Linked DNA regions of Homo sapiens: region 1 is linked to region 2. The links come from fine-mapping of genetic effects on gene expression. Tissue or cell type: whole blood. Region 2 holds a variant in brackets; the other region holds the start of a gene. All regions are shown on one strand. Distances are from middle to middle.

The links. PIP is the estimated chance that this variant, and not a neighbour inherited with it, causes the effect.
Region 1: DHRS3 starts here. The variant in region 2 is fine-mapped to the expression of DHRS3 in whole blood (TOPMed, PIP 0.94).

The regions. Positions count from the first base shown.
Region 1 is chr1:12,616,736-12,619,486 of GRCh38, reverse strand. It overlaps DHRS3 (dehydrogenase/reductase 3), which reads left to right and starts at 1,277. Exons shown (of 6, transcript NM_004753.7): 1 at 1,277-2,333. The coding sequence starts at 2,139. RefSeq lists enhancers at 1-388, 389-1,020, 1,021-1,652.
Region 2 is chr1:12,592,851-12,595,601 of GRCh38, reverse strand. The region is part of intron 1 of DHRS3 (dehydrogenase/reductase 3); the gene reads left to right. Among named protein-coding and RNA genes, the nearest start is that of MIR6730, 15 kb to the right of the region's middle. RefSeq lists an enhancer at 2,321-2,751. The variant G/C (reference allele first, on the strand shown) is at 1,387.

The DNA.
Region 1 (2,751 bases), 24 kb before region 2:
TCTCCCCAGAACTAGGTCTTTGCAGGTGACGAGGTAATCCCAGCCTCCCCTCCCCGCAGATCAGCGTTTTTCGAAGTGACTTTCTCACCAGGCGGAGCATTGAAAGTACCGATCCCAGCGCACCCAGCCCTGCTGAATCAGAATCTCTGGGGGTGAGGCCCAGGAATCGCCGTCTGAACAAGTCGCGGGCTGGAAACGGCTGCCCCAGATTACAGGGCAGCTCCCTGCTTCGCTCTCGCTCCTCCGGCCCCGGGAACGTGCAGGGGGGCGGGAGGCAAGTCCCATCAGCACTTTGAACTGGGGCTGCTTTTTAGTGACTCACCTCCCAGACTTCCTGCAACAGACAACTCTAAATAGCTCGGTCCCACCCTCCAGCAGGGGAGACATTCCGGTCGGGAAGGGCAGGAGGTTAGAAGGTGGGTGCCCCGCCAGGGCAGTCCAGGGAGACCCAAGGACAGGAGACGCTGGCTGCACAGCACAGGGGCGCACGAATAGGACGTTTTGTTTACAGGCTTTTGTTATTAAGGAAATTGGTGTCAGTCAAGGTAATTCTAGCTCAGATGAGCAATAAATATGCTCCCAGCTAATCTTGTGGGGATTTTATTGGCACTCGGAGCAGAGGTTCCTTTACCTTGACTACTCCCTCCCCTCAAAGCAAAGTCCTGCTCCCCAGCGGCTTCCCCCTAAGCATCGTGAGGCACTTGGGTCAGGCTTTTAAAAGTCCACTCTACGTGAACACAGAAGAGGTCCGGGCAAAGGTGAGGAGTGGCTTCCTGATCCTACCTGGAGGCCGAGGATGACCAAATGACCTGAAATAAAACCCTGGGTGACCTGGTTGGATCAAGGCATACGCAAGCTCCCCCGGGCCTGCTCCACACTCGGGGTGATCACCTGGCCCGCGGGCGGCCCGGGCAAGGAGGAACGTCTCGAGAAGGCAGCCGGCTCGCCGGAGTCGGTTCCAGCGTGTTCGAGTTACAGCTGCGAGCCCTCAGGGACACCGGCGGCAAGTCCCGGCTTGCAGAGAGGGGAGCCAGTCCCGGGAGAGCGCGAGTCCCGGCGAGCCCGAGTGCGCGCCTTATGCGCGCTCCCCGCGACGGCGCAGGGGGAGGGGAGGCCGCAGCAGCCACTCAGAGGAACGGTAGTGAAGCCTCCCAACAACTTTAACTGTCAATCAGACTTAATGGGGTATTGAAAAAATGGGGGAAAAAGGGGCCGCCCTCTCCGCGACGCGGCTGCCCGGGGAGCGAATGAATAGGGCCGCGCAGACCAAGGCGTCCGATCCACGCGCGCTCCACACCCGGACCCTCTCCAAGTTGGAAAGGACAAAAAGAAGGCAATAAATGCTAAAAAGGGAGAGAAGGGGAGCTGGATCGAGCGGCAACTCCCAGCCTCTGCTGGAACAGAGAGGGAGGGAGGGAGCCGGAGCGAGCGAGCGCGCGCGAGGGCGAGCGCTGCACGTAAAGAAACTGACACCCGGACCCCCCACTTCTCCTGCACGTTGCTGGCAATCAGATCGCGTTTAAGCAATTTCCTGAGCCCAAGAATAGCAATGAGTCGGGAGACTTTCGCGGGCTGAAATTGGGAGCTCCAAGCACTTTTTCCCCCCACTTTTTTTTTTTTTTTTTTTCTGGAGACGGGGTGGGGGTGGGGGCGCTACAATTTGGAATCAGCTTTTTTTTTTTTTTTTTTTTTTTTTTTAATCTTGCACTTTGAAACCGCGGGACCGAGGCAGGGTGCGCGCGTGTGGTTGGTGCCTTTTTTTTTTTTTCTTCCCCTCCCTAAACTCCTCTGTCAGTCTGTAAACATTACCTGAGAATTCCCCAGCCGAAACGGCTGCTGGGGCAAGAAACTTCTTGTTAGAACTTTCCACCTCCGGCTTCCCCCTCCACCTCTTTTACCGTCCCAACCTTAGGAGACGCTTTTTCTCCCCCAGAGGAGAATTTATCTTTTTTTTTTTTTTTTTTTTCTTTTTCTCACCCGGTGCTTTGCATTTGGGAAGAGGTGATTTCAAGAGTGGCCAGGTGGGACGCCTCTCTCCTCCTTATTCGGTTTACTATTTATTGTTCGGGGTGTTTTTTAATTCCTGTATTGCTCGGCCCGGGGAGTTTCGCCCCCTGCCCGGCTCCGCGGCGCGGAGGATGGTGTGGAAACGGCTGGGCGCGCTGGTGATGTTCCCTCTACAGATGATCTATCTGGTGGTGAAAGCAGCCGTCGGACTGGTGCTGCCCGCCAAGCTGCGGGACCTGTCGCGGGAGAACGTCCTCATCACCGGCGGCGGGAGAGGCATCGGGCGTCAGCTCGCCCGCGAGTTCGCGGAGCGCGGCGCCAGAAAGGTACCAGGCACTGCGACTCCAGGGAGTGGGGGGCCGCAGGGGCGGGGGTAAGCCCACCTGCTGCCGCTGCGGGATCCCGCGCCCGGGAGCTGAGAGTCGCCGGCCACCCCACTTCTCCGCGCCACCCACGAGTGCTGAGCTAGTCGGTTTCACCTTGTAAATTTCCCGGGCACCGGACTGTCTTTTTTGGCAGGTTCAGAGTTGATCCGCTCCTTTGGGATCGGTGGCTGGCTGACTGGCTATTCACCCCCACCCTGAAACCTAAGAGACCCACCATTTCCCACATTCCTGCCTCCCAAAGGAAGGTGTTGTGCCCCCCTCCCCCGCCTTCCCCCCTTTTTCTTGCCGCCACCCTGGTGAGTGCAGGGTGTGCGCACTCCTGGGTAGAGCTGGGAGCCGCCTGCTAGCTGGCGCCTCG
Region 2 (2,751 bases):
CCTCCTCACCCGCTCCACCCAGTCGCCCTCCAGTCTGCACCCAGGACCCCAGCCTCGCCCCGCCCCCTCCCCATCTATCTCCCGCCCCTTCCCATCCCCTTTCCACCCCTTTCCCATCCGCCGCTTGGGATCCCAGCCCGATCCCCACCCGGCACTGCAGCCCCGCCCAGCCCCTCCCGGGACCCCCGCGGCCCCGCCCCGCGCCCGCCCCTGGGCCCACTTTCAGAAAGACTTCCTGGAGCCTCCTGCCCGACCCGCTGAGGCTTGGCGGCTCCTCCTGCCACCCCCTCACGCCATCATGTGAGCCAGGCTGGCCTCCCGGCCGCGCACCGAGCCGGCTGCAGCTCGTTAGCTGTCAGGGCCAGGGTTGGGACGGCCCGGGCACTTTGTTATTGGAAACTGGGCTCACCCCCGCTGCGCTAGGTGGGTCCCAGGCGCTGGGGCAGCCTCTTCCCCCGGAGCTGCCTTTGCCACCTGGAACTGCTTTCTCGCTCACCGCCTCCCCTCCCCTCCCTCTGCGTAAACCAATTGTTCTGGAAGCTGAAGGGACCTGGGATTCTCTTCCTGCACACCTGGGGCTTGCCAGAGCCAACCCTCCTGGAGAGGGAGGCGCTGGGGCTCAGGGAACGGCAACCTCATTCTTCCATTTTCTCAGGCCAAACGCTCTGGTGTCCTCTGGGAAGCTCACTTTCTCCAGCACCCAGCTCTGCAACCGTCCAGAATCCCTCTTCTCCCATCACCTAAGCATCCCAGCCCAGCCCCTTCCAGCTTCATGTCAGAGGCTGTCTTTTTTCTCCTTACAACCTCCCAATCTACCCCATCTCAGAAAAGAATTCAAAGTCCTGCTGTGGCTGGTGTCTCCCGCTTGCTCTTCCACACTGGTCTCCGTGCTGGGGAAGCTCATTCCCACCCCAGGGCCTTTGCACCAACTGTTCCCTCCACCAGGGATGCTCTTCCTCCACGCGTCTGTATCGCTCCCTCCTTCACTTCCCTCAGGTCTCTTCCAAAATGTTACTTTAACCAAGAGGACTTCCCTGCACCTTTCCCCCACCATCTGAATACCACTCCCACCCCATAATCACTCCCTCCAACCCCCTACAAAGCTATGTGTTCCTCCCATGCACATCTAGCACTTTCTAGTGGCTAGAAAACTACTTACTATACAGTCATTCGTTCACGTGAACAAGTGTTCATGCTCATTGTCCCCGGACTTACACACAAGCAAACTCCGCAAGTGAGATAAATGTATTCCCCGCTGGATCCCAGGGCCTCCAAAGTGCCTGGTGCACACAATTCCACAAATAGTCCTTGAATGAATGAATGAGGCAGGACAGGGTTGTTAAAAGAGCTTCCCTTTGGAGTCCGAGCCTTGCTTTGAAACTTCTA[G/C]TAGTGCAGCCTGCATGAGTTACTTAGACTGTCCAAATTTGAATCCCACCCCGGTGGACAGTAATCTGGAGATGTGTGCTGTGAGGGAAGGGTGGTCTGTAGATGCTGGCTCCTCCCTCCTCTCCTTGGCACCCCCACCCCAAGGTCACCCAGCACTTTCCAGCAAGAGGTCCAGTGGGGGAAAAGGGCAAAGGTTGTGAGGTGTCAGCCATGAACTCTAGCCTGAGTTTCTCTGCCTCCGTGTTTTGCCAAGTGCGGCCCTGGGCAGTCAGATGGAGGTGGAGCCCCTGGCCAGTCTTGTAGGCTGGGGATGTTTGTGAAAAGAAACATCAGCCCGTGGGTTTCTGGCTGGGAGTGAGCAGTGTTCTGCCTGCCCAGAGTCAGCTTTTGTGATCGTTTCCCTGGAGAGTTTTCTGAGTGGTCCCAGAACCAAAAAGTTTCGCAAGAATCACACCCAGGGATGAGGTGGAGACTGCCCAGTTGTCACGTACTGGCTCTTGGCAGGGCGTGGTTTTAGCATTTGAAGGAGTGTCCTCAGGAACACTAGGTGCTCATCACAGGGGGAGACATGCCTGTCTCAGCAACTGGGAAGGAGGAAATCAAAGAAGGGTAGATTTGTAAATCAAATCAGAGCTGGTGTTTGTGGGGTTGGGGCATTTTACATGAAGACCTCTTGGGTAAAGAGACACTTGAGCAGAACCTGTGAGAAGGTGGCCAGGTGTGGTACCTCACTCCTGTAATCCCAGCACTTTGGGAGACTGAGGCAGGAGGATCACTTGAAGCCAGGAGTTCAAGACCAGCCTGGGCAACAATGTGATACCCCCGTCTCTACAAATAATAATAATCATAATAATTTTTTAAAAAGAAAAGAGGGTGCCCTACAAGGAGAGGGATACTTGGGAAAAGAGAACAGAGAGCAGCCAGTACAAAGGCCCTAAGGTAGAGGGGGCCAGTGCTTCTGCAGGGCCGAGACCTAGGAGGGAGTAGCTGAGACGAGGGATGGGGCAGACCAGGAAGGGCCTGCGATCCCAGTAAACACTAGATTCCAGTCTGTGAGATGGGCAGCCATCAGTAGTCATAAGCAGGGTGATGTGGTCTGACACATTCTAGAAGGATCTCTGGCTGTTGTGTTGAGAACAGACTGAGGCAGGGGCCCTGGGGCAAAGGTAGCAGCCAAGTGACCTTTTGGGACCAGGTGAGGGGTCCACTTGTGCTCCAGGTGAAGGGCGCTGAGGCAGGGCCCCAAGGCGCCGTGGAGGTGGCGAGAAGTGGTGAGAAGCCTCTGGATTTCAGAGGTCAGGCTGACAGGGTGCGTGGTGGAGTGGGCATACAGTGAGAGAAAACACTTAATGTGGGACAGTGAAG